2 separate regions of the Homo sapiens genome follow, and region 1 is linked to region 2. The links come from fine-mapping of genetic effects on gene expression. A gene starts in region 2. The other region holds a variant in brackets. All regions are shown on one strand. Distances are between the middles of the regions.

Region 1 (5,419 bases), 22 kb after region 2:
ACTATATGTATAACTGCATTTAGAAACAACATCAAAAGTCAATTTGTGACTGAATGTGGAGTCCAGGTAAGTTGGCCAACCTGAAACCGACTCTTCACCCCCAATACCACCGTGTCAGGCATAGTAGGCCCTGGCTGGCTCCTCTCCACTCACCCCAGGTTGCAAATCCATGCCTCCTGGGGGATTCCTACTCTGTAACCCAGCTCTGCCTCTAGGCTCAGAGCCCACATGTCAGGGATGACCCAGCTTGCCCTGTCATTCCTCCCAAACGTCCACAAAGGACTAGGCTCCCAGGCCCCTCCTAATCTCTGCTGCTAAATCCGTTGGTCGTTTCATAGTTCTTAGCTTTCATTTGACACAGGGTAATCACTCTGAAGGCACTCTTAGTTTCTGGGACACTACTCCTCCTTAATTGCCTCCTTTACTGGAATTTTTTTTTTTTTTTTTTTTAGTAGAGACAAGAGTTTCACCACGTTGGCCAGGCTGGCCTCAAACTCCTGACCTCAAGTAATCCGCCCATGTTGGCCTTACAAAGTGCTGGGATTACAGGTGTGAGCCACTGCACCCAGCTACTGGATTCCTATCTCCTCATTCTCTGACTTTCTTGGGCTTAGTCCTCAAACCTCTTCTGTTTACACCCCTTCCCAGGTGATTCTGTGACTTTACCATCTATATATCTTGACTTCTAAATTTTTGTCTCAGCCTAAATCTCTGCCCTGAGCACCAGAGTTGGAAATCTTACTGCCTTCATCTCTACTCAACATCTCCACTTGGCTGTCTAATAGGTATCTCAGACTTGAGATATCCAAAGCAAACCGAATTCTCTCCCAGCCCCACACCACCACCATCCTGTAGTCTTTACTGTGAATTAAGGGCACCTCCATTTACCCAGCTGCCCAGAGTCATTTTGGACACATCTGTTTCTCTCATGTCCCACATCCAATCCATCATCAAATACTGTTTTTATCTGCAGAATATATCCAGACTCTAATCATGCCTTCTCACCTCCACTGCCCCCACCCTGGTCTAAGACACCATCATCTCTTGCCTATAGACTATTGCAATGGCCCCCTAACTGATCTTCACGCATGCATCTTGTGTGGAGGGTTCTCCACGCAGCAGCCAGTCAGACTTTCACTCTCTGCTGAGACCTAACCAGTGGCTTTCCATCTCATTCTGTCCTTTCACTCCTTACAAGGGCCTACTCCAAGGCCCATGTTTCCTCTGATCAGACATTCCAACCACTCACCCCTTCAGCCCCCCTATTCCAACCCAGTGGCCTCCTTGCTTTTCTTCCAACACATCAAGCAAAATTCTATCCCAGGATATTTGTACCTGCTATTCTGACCGTAGTGCTCGTCCCTAGGTATCCACGTAGTCATAGCTCTCTTCCTCCCCTCCTTCAATTCCTGCTCACTGAGTTCTTCAACACTTATATAATAGTATCTCTTGCATGGTGATTTGAAATACCTTCACAAAATTTTTGATGCTCTGTCCTTCAAGAGGTGAAGCCTAAATTCCTTCCCCTTGAGTGGACTAGACTTAATTATGTACTTTCACAAATAATGTGGCATAAATAACAGTGTGTGACTTCTAGGACTAGGCCATAAAAAGCATTGCTGTCTAAAGAGTCTCTCTTGGATCATTCTGGGGGAAACCAACTGCCATGTTGAGAGGACATACAAGCAATCCTATGGAGAGGCCCATATTGCGGGGGGAACAGGCCCCCTGCCAAGGGCCATGCAAGTGAGCCATTTTGGAAGTAGATCCTCCAGTTCCAGTCAAGCCTTCAGATGACTGCATCCCTGGCCAACCTTTTTACTACAACACCTTAGAGGACAATGAGTCAGAACCATCCAGACCCACAGAATTGTGAGAAAATAAATGTTTTTGTTTTAAGCTGCTAAATTATGGGGTGATTTGTTACACAGCAATAGGTAACTAATGCCCCCTTTTATGTTCCCCCCAACCCAGCTACATTTTTCTCCATGGTACTTACCACTATCTGACACACTGTATATTTCCCCCACTTAGAATTGTACCATTATAATAAGGACTTTGTCTTATTTGCTCCTGTGTCCAACAGTGCCTGGCAAAAAAAATAGATAATAAATATGTGTTGGATGAATGAAGCATGGGTCTCTGAAGGTCTAGGTCTGTCTCCGTCTCTGTGAGGTATAAGACCAGACTGCGGGTATGAGAGGCAGCCTTTCCTTTTCACAGATGAAGAGAGATAAACCAAGTCCCAGTCAAGCATATTCCTTCCCCTCAGCCCTTCCCAGTTGTAGCCCTCCTGGCCCAGACCCCAAAAGTGGATTAACTTTGCTTGATTGATTTGGGAGCTGGGGGAGTGACTGCCCAGCCCCTTACCATTCAACCCAAACCCTACAAAGCGATCTCCAAACACTCAGAACTGGAATTTCCCCAAGCCAATTCCTACCTTTCTAGGAAGACTCTGGCCACCTACCTTTGTCCATGGACCTCCTCTGAGCAGCCAGGGGAAGCTGTGGTGGGGAAAAGGGAGCAAGCAGGGCACAAGGGTTCTGTGGATTGCTACCCTCTGCTCTCCAGTCTTCCAGTAGACTTCCAGGGCATGTCTGTCTGCCTGGCACATTCACTGATTCTCCCCTCCCAGCATCAGGGAGGGTTGGGCAGAGGAGGAGGCTTGGCTCTGCCCCAGGATACTCACACCAAACAAAGCCATGGGGGAGGAGGCATCAGTACC[G/A]ACAGTGATTGGATCACTGGAGCTTCTGGAGGCTGGGGGGTTCTGATGGGCTCAGAGGTCTGAAATCTGAGGTGGAGGACACTGGGGCAGCCAAAGGAATGAATGGGGTGAGCCTCAGCGTGGCCAGGAATGGGCCATAGAGAACCAGGACTTAGTGCTGCAGTAGAAGCTGGGCACAGAAGGGTGCAGAGAAGGGTGGCGGCTGGAGGCAGGGAGAGCAGGGAGGAGGCACCCACCATGGTCAGACCCACCATGGTCAGAAGAGCCGGTGGTTTGAGCCAGAGCAAGCTGAGGCTGAGAGGAGTGGACTGATTGGGAGAGGACAAGGGAGGAGGGAGGAGACAAAGGTCGTGTTTGGATTCCTGCCTTCTGGGGGTGTGAGGTCAGAAGACAGTCTCTGGTGCCACAGTTTCATACCTATGCCAAGTGTCACCCCTACAGACACCTGCTGTTCACTTACACACTTGGCATCACCTCACAGTGTCCCTCTGTTTGGTAAGTGGTCCCCTTGGGCACAGGAAGAAATAGGAAGTATGAGGATTCCCGGGAGGAGTGGGGTCCAGGCTGTTCAGAGCAGAAATTCTGAGAGGCCTGCCACTCAGAACCCCCAAATAAGGAACAGCATTTCAGCGTCTTGGGAATAGTTAGGGGGAGGGCGCAAAGCAGTGGGCTGAGGGGGTCTGGAGATACAGATGTGGCAGTCAGGCACACATAGGTGGAGAATGTGTGTGAACATGGGCGAAGTGCCGGTCACTGTTGAAACAAACCTATGATGAGTACCAGAGGTTCATTATACTATTCACTTGTCTATGTTTCAAAATTTTCATAATACAGGCTGGGTACGGTAGCTCATGCCTGTAATCCCAGCACTGTGGGTGGCCAGGGTGGGTGGATCACTTGAGGTCAGGAGTTCGAGACCAGCCTAGCCAAAATGGTGAAACCCCATCTCTACTAAAAAGACAAAAATTAGCCGGGTCTGGTGGTGGACGCCTGTAATCCCAGCTAATTCCAGCTATTCGGGAGGCTGAGGCAGTAGAATCACTTGAACCTGGGAGGCGGAGGCTGCAGTGAGCCCAGATCGCGCCACTGCACTCCAGCCTGGGTGACAGAGACTCTGTCTCCAAAAAAGAAAAAAAAGAAAAGAAAGAAAAAGAAAAGAAAAGAAAATTTCCATAATAGAATGTCAAAAGAGACAAAAACTGTGTGTGGCTGTGTATCTGCATGCGGTGAGTGTGCAGTCAGCTTAAAGACCTCTGAGAGTGTGTGAGTGCATAGGTGTGGGTCCACCACCATGTGCACTCATGTGTGCAAACCGCAGCATGCCCGCAGTGGGGGACAGCACGTAGGCAGGGCAGGGGTGCTCAAGGCAAAGGGAGAAGCTTCTATTCTGACCAGACCCTCCACGCACACCCCAGCATCTTGCAGAGGGATTCCCCTCTTGATCACAGCGTGCCCAGGCCATTGGCACTGTGGTGACCATGTCACGGAACGTGTGAGACTGGGAAGCTATGCGCCTGAACTTGTGACAAGGTGTGTTGGTGTGTGGATGCGGCTATTTGTATGTGGAAGCCCAGTGCCGAGTGTGGGTGTCGGGGGCACGACTTGTGAGGCTGGGCGGGGCTCTGGTCCGGAGTCCGGTGGCGGTAGAGCCCTCATTTTCGCACGATTCCCCCGCAGCTTTCCAGCGCCCCCTGCCCCCGAAGCTGGCTGGAAAGAAGGTGGGAGACACCTGTTGGGGAGCTGAGAGCGGCAGATCCCACAGGGGCCTCTCCCCATGCGCCCCGCCCGCCCTGCCCCGCTCGGGTCCCGCCCCCGCGGCCGCCGCAAGCAGCGCGGCGAGTGAGCGCACAGCCGCCAGAGGAGCACAGGGCGGCGGGAGCGCACCGCCGGGACCCAGCCGAGGCCAGGGCCGCCTGGGAGGCGGGCGGAGCAAAGGCAGCGCCGTGGAGACGCCAGGGGCAGCGGGCCACGCCAGGCAGGTGAGTGCGGCCGCGGGGCGCCCGGAGCGAGGGAGCCGGGCGTCGCGACTCTGCCGCCTCCTGCCCGTCCGGTCCCGTGCCCGTCCCAGGCTCTGCCCCACCGCCCTCCATCCCCGCGACTCCTTGGTCCCTGTCCTCTGCCCCTCTCTCCGGCTGTTTTTCCCGTCCCTGTCTCTGTCGGTCCCTCTCTATTTAACTGTCTCTTTCTAATCTCTCTCTTCTGTCCGTTTCCTGCTGTCTTGGTCTTTCCCTATATCTCAACCCCTGTCTATTTGTCTATCTCCGCCTCTGTCTCTCCGTCTCTGTCCGTCTCTGAGCTACCTGTCACTTAGGTCTTTTATCTGTTGCTCCTCTACCTCTCTTACCCTCCCTGTCTCTCTACCCAATATTCTATCTCTCTCCATCTCTGTCTGTCTACCCTGTCTCTGCCTGATACCTCTGCCTCTCTCCATCTTGGTCCCTCTCAGTCTCTGTGTCACCCCACTTCTGTCTCTCCTTGTCACCCTGTTCCATCTCTATTTTCACATCTCCCTGTCATTGTCTCTGTCGGACATCCCCCTTCTCCTTTTCTTTCTCTCTCCCTTCCTTCACCATTTCCCGATGTCTCTTGGTCCCCGTCACCCTCTCTGATCTGCTCACTCTTCCAGTCCTCAGTCAATGGCCATTTGATTCCCCGGGTCTGGTCCTGTTTCTGTTCACCTCTGGGAAAGCCATC
Region 2 (5,291 bases):
TTTCCCACTGTATACCCAGTGCTTTGCATGTGCGTGCGCGCGCACACACACACACACACACACACGGACACACACACCCCCTCACACCCTCCATCTCAGTCCTGGGCTTAGGGCCCAGAACAAAAGCCGGAGGCAACAGACTGTGCCAGCAACTCCCCCTCCACTGCCCTTGGCGCCCACCCCTGGCACCAAGCACTGGCACCAGCTCAGCCACTCCCATTAACCCCTCCAGTCCAGCTGTTGGGAATTCTGGTATTTACCCCCACCTGGTCCAGGGCTTATCACTGCCTCTGATTAACCTAGGCAGACCTTATCACCCTGGGGGAAGGGTGTCATCATGGATCTGAGCCCATCCTGCACTCCCACCCTGAGGCCCACCCCTGCCCTGGCTGCCAGGCTTCTCGCCTGAACCTGGCTCCTTGGTCTGGCTACTTGGGCCACTCAGCTGGGCCTGGCTCTTGACACTTCGTTGGTCTCCAGTTTGTGAAGCTGGATGGGGCTAGGGTGCAGGCTGGGGCTGTGTAGTTAAGCAGATCCAGATGCCCTGGCTGCTGCCAGAGGCTGGGGGTGGGCGAGGAGCCAGCAGATGGAAATGGAGACAGGGTGGCGGGGAGGGGAGGGGAGGGAAGGGGATGAGAGGCTGAGAGGAACTGGGAGCCTGCAGGGACAGGCATGGGGGCCACAGCACCAAGAGATACTCAGAGATCAGGACTAGGAGGTGATGGGGCAGTGTGGGAAGTGTTGGAAAGACTGGATTGGGGTCAGCGGAAACTCAAAAAGCTAACAGTGTGTCTATATGGCAGGTGGGGGATGCTAGGAGAGAGAGATTCTGGACAAGGGGGAGCAGAAGGAGGAAGGCAGTGGTGAAGTGGATGGAGAACGAAGGGGCAGGCGGGGAAAGGGCTCTGGGAACAAGACCAGAAGAGGAAGAGCACGGACCCTTCAGGAGTAGGAGTAGAGCAGAGCAGGGCCTCCACCTGTCTGTGTGTCTGTCTGAGTGTGTCCAGTTGGCTCACCCCTGGCCACCCAGCCACACTTACCCTGCTTAGCCCCACCCTACCTCGGTGATCCCAGCAGCAGAGTGTCCATAGCCTCTAGGACTTCCTCTCACCAGCTACAGCCCCCGTCTCCTACTCCACTCAGTTCTGGGACCCCAGAGCCATCCCCTCCTTCCCCTTCCCTGCCCCGCCCCCTCTAAGCCCTGGAGCTCTGCCGCCCCTAGCCAGGCCCCCTCCCTGCTCCTGCCTCCTCCCTCCTTCCCTCCCACCCAAGGCCCTGGGAAGGGAAGAGGCCTCCCCCAAGTCTGGAAAGGAAGCCACAGACACAGCCAAGGCCAGCAAGAGGGAAAGGAGGGTGGCTAATACTTATGTCCCTGTCAGTGAGAGATGCCCTGTGTTTTCACACAGCCAGACACAGTCACATTCACACACAGACTCAAGAGGCACAGTTAACAAAAGGGCATGCCTTTGAACACACGTGGACACAATCAAATGAAAAATCAGATACAAACTCCCCCTCTTTTCACTCCTCACCAAATGTTTCCTTAGGGTACAGCTGGCTGTGCTTCCAGGGGAAGGGAGGCCCCAGGTTGGGGGATATAAGGAGAGGCCAAAGAGTCCAGTTCCCCCTCCCCTGGAAGTTCCAGCCATTTCTCACCTCCCCCTCCATTCTTTGGGCCCCAGCACCAGGAAATGCCTTTGGTCCCTTGGTGCCAGATACACAAGACCCACAGTTACCCTCAGACTCATACACTCTCACATGCGGTCACTCACAGTCACACGGGCACAGCCACACCGCCTCAGACTCAGACACACTTACACATATTCATACACTCACGCAGTCACACACGCACACAGCCCCTACCAGGGCTCACAGCACCGCCTAAAAGCAACTCTTCATCATGGTCTAAGCCCCCTCTCTCAGGGAGCTCTTAGCCGGGGCAGACCCGCATCTCATCACTGTTACAGGCCCCCAACTAGCCAGAGATCAAGATCAGCAGGGAAGGCAGGCATAGGGGCACAGAGAGAGACAGAGAGAAAGGAAAGGCAAAACTGGAAATGCACCCACACAGAGAGACCAGGGGAACAAAGCTGTGAAGAAACACACAGAGGTATCTCTAGTAAGACAGCAATAGGGACAGAAAACGGCACGTAAGGGAAACTGAGCCAAGCAGGGAAACAGAAAATAAGGAGCAGTAGACCTGATGCTGGGGATTCTTGAGCAGAGGAAGGAGGGGAAGCCACGTGTGTTGTGGGTGTGTCTGTCAATGCTGGACACTTAAGAGAAAGGTCAGTCCCATGGGCTCTTGAGGTAGGTCCCCCAATACATGAATACAGCTGTACTCCCACACGGTTTAAGTTAGGACCCAGGACACACACATAGTCACAAACCTCACTTTTGCTCTGCTACTGCTGAAGTCACACATTGGCACACACAAAGCCAGCCACCCACTCTCACGCTGGCAGACATGGTCTCAAACCCCACAGAGACCTTCCCAAAACACATTCCCTCATGTGGTCACAGTCCCTCTCACACAAACACACAACCCAGTCCCACCAAAAATGTGCATTGACAGATACACACATAATCCCACACTTGCACAGCCACATGCACCTCCAGCTCCATGCACACTGACACACGCAGTCACATTAGCTGACAGCTGCACCAAGTGACACTCAGAATCGCACACAATGATACTGTCACACAGACACAGCCTCACAGGCACATACACACTGACAGTCGTTAGTCACTCCCGGCCTTTCAGATCATACATCACCCTGCCCCGCCCACTCCTGACAAGACTTTGGCGTCTACACCAGGCCTCACCTTCCGCGGCCGCTGCCGCCAGCGCCCTCTGCCCTCGCCCTCGCCCTCTGCCCCGGCCTCTACTCCCTCCCGCCCTGGGCCCCCGCAGCGGGGGTGGCTCCGCCCAGGCGCCAATGGAAGGAGAGGAGTGAAATAGGGGGGCTCCTGGCCCATTGGAGACTCCAACTGCCAATCACCTCCACCCCCACCTCCGCCGGACACTTCCTGTCCCGTCCCGGACTGAAGAGGCTGCTTGGGACAGAGTCTGGAGCTGGATTCCTGGGTCTCCGCCTGAAGGCCTATCCACCCTGGAACAGCAGGACTGGAAACAAGAGCCACTGGCCAGGTGATTGGAGAAGCTGAAGGTGCCCCTGACTCCAGATAAGATAAAGAAGAAGGAGGGCTGTGTAGGGCAGTGGTTCTCAAACTTTGCTGGATATTGTGGTTTGAAAACTGCAAAACCCCACCCCATACCAATTAAATCAGAGTCTCTGGAGGTTGGACCTAGGCACCAGTATTGTTTAAAACTTCCCAGATGATTCCAAAATGCAGCCAAATCAGAGGTGTAAGGTGTGTCGGGTATATGTATGCCTCAAGAAACCAGCCACCCACTCAGGGTTCTCATCTACTCCCCAGTCATGGGAAGCTCGAGGGAAATGTGTGCATACTATGTCTATCAGATCTTCCAGACCAGGGCAACACTCCCAAGTTCCAGGTACTTCCCCTCCAGGATCTCAGGGAAGAAAAACCCTGGTCTGGAAGGCAGGCAGCCAAGTTTCTCCTGGGCCAGATTCAGTCACTGTCCAGCCTTAGTGTGATTTCCCCACCCACAGGCTTGGTTCCCCTGGGGAAAGAACGAAGGCAAAAACCATTCTGGCCATCCCTGCATCATTCACAATGCCTGCCTTCGCCTTAAAATTTGGAGGACACCAGTGGCATCAGGTCTCCTGTGTTGCATAGACTGTTGTTCCCACAGCGTTGCCAGGGAAACAGGTCCAGAGGGGACTGAATAGACCCCAGGTCACTCTGAGAGCCATACCTTCCTTCCAGGCCCTAGGGTTCCTAACTCTAGCAGTCCCTTCTCTGTCAGAGCTGTTTCTGTTTGTGCAATGATTGGGGCACAAGGGCAGCAGAAGTATATGGTGCCCGCACATGTGAGAGTCTGGAGGAGCCAAGGACACAAAGCCACGTACACGCTCCCTACACACTCCCTACCCGCCCCTTTAGCCCCTGTGGGCTGGAGCAGAGCCAAGCTGCAGCCACTCACAAAGCCAGGGTTCTGGCCAGCAGCCCAGGATCTGGCCACTGACCACTGGGATCAGGATCCAGCTCACCCGCTCCCCATCAAACCCTCAGGCCCAGGCTTGGAGCTGACACCCTAGGGGTGGTGGCAAAGGGGGCTCTGGCCTTCCCAAAGCCTCAGCCACAACCAAGACACAAGATTTTAAAACAGTTTCCTAAACTGGGAATGCTGTCATTACACCAAGAGTAAGAGAATCTATAGGCTAGATATAATACTGAATATTAATTTTGTTCAGAAATTTGGGGTAGATTTTTGCATCAAGATTTTACACATCTGTAGACAAAGAAAAGTTGTAGCTGGAGCTATGCCTTTAGCTTTTAACCCTAGATCTCTGAAGGTTCACACTCCTCTGATATTAGAGTATGTGATAAAAGTTTGAGATGCACAGTTTTATTAATGCTATATCTGCCCAAATTCCAGGCCAGGATTCAAGGCCCTTTCTGCTTAATTCAGCAAGACTGTTGAAAACAAAAAAGGATTCAAGGCCCTGTGGTCGGCGTGGTCAGGCGATGGTTGCTGTCTCCCTGTCCTTCTGCCCCAGGTGGTAATGAACCTCAGGAAGTGCCCTTAGTCTCTCTGCAGCCTGGAAAAGGGACAGGGAGCAATTAAGGAGGATAAGGGCTGGGCTGCCAAGAATGGTGGCATGGACTTCATTTTTTTTTTTTTTTTGAGACGAGGTCTTGCTCTGTTGCCCAGGCTGGAATGCAATGATGCCATGATGATGGCTCACTGCAGCCTCAAACTCCTGGGCCCAAGTGATCCTATCTCAGCCTCCCAAGTATCTGGGACCACAAGTATATGCCACCATACCTGGCTAACTTTTTAAATTTTTTTTGTAGAGACGAGGGCTTCCTATGTTTCCCAGGCTAGTCTCGAACTTCTGGGCTCAAGCAATCCTCCCATCTTGACCTCCCAAAGTGCTGGGATTAAGGCATGAGCCACCACACCCGGCCGATGGTATGGAGTTCTGGGTGCTCAGGAGACATTTTGCTGGATATTGTGGTTTGAAATATGAATATGAAATATGAATGCCACAGGCCCACTGGGGGTGGGCCTGTGGGATTGTGAGGCTGGTGATAAGGACTGCTGAAGCCACCAGGGGATGAAAGAGTTTAGCAGCTCCTGAGTCCCAAGGAATGCCCAGGTTGTTATGGGAAACTATCAGGGTCATGACTGTTGGGTT

The links. PIP is the estimated chance that this variant, and not a neighbour inherited with it, causes the effect.
Region 1: its variant is the best candidate, but not a certain one, in a credible set for the expression of IL11RA in whole blood (TOPMed, PIP 0.77).

What each region holds. Positions count from the first base shown.
Region 1 is chr9:34,628,202-34,633,620 of GRCh38, reverse strand. ARID3C (AT-rich interaction domain 3C) reads left to right here and starts at 4,555. Exons shown (of 8, transcript NM_001017363.4): 1 at 4,555-4,704. RefSeq lists silencers at 4,437-4,596, 4,647-4,746. The variant G/A (reference allele first, on the strand shown) is at 2,726.
Region 2 is chr9:34,649,769-34,655,059 of GRCh38, reverse strand. It overlaps IL11RA (interleukin 11 receptor subunit alpha), which reads right to left and starts at 2,875. Exons shown (of 13, transcript NM_001142784.3): 1 at 2,827-2,875. It overlaps GALT (galactose-1-phosphate uridylyltransferase), which reads right to left. Exons shown (of 11, transcript NM_000155.4): 11 at 4,025-4,691. The coding sequence ends at 4,611. RefSeq lists an enhancer at 1-238 and a silencer at 2,820-2,919.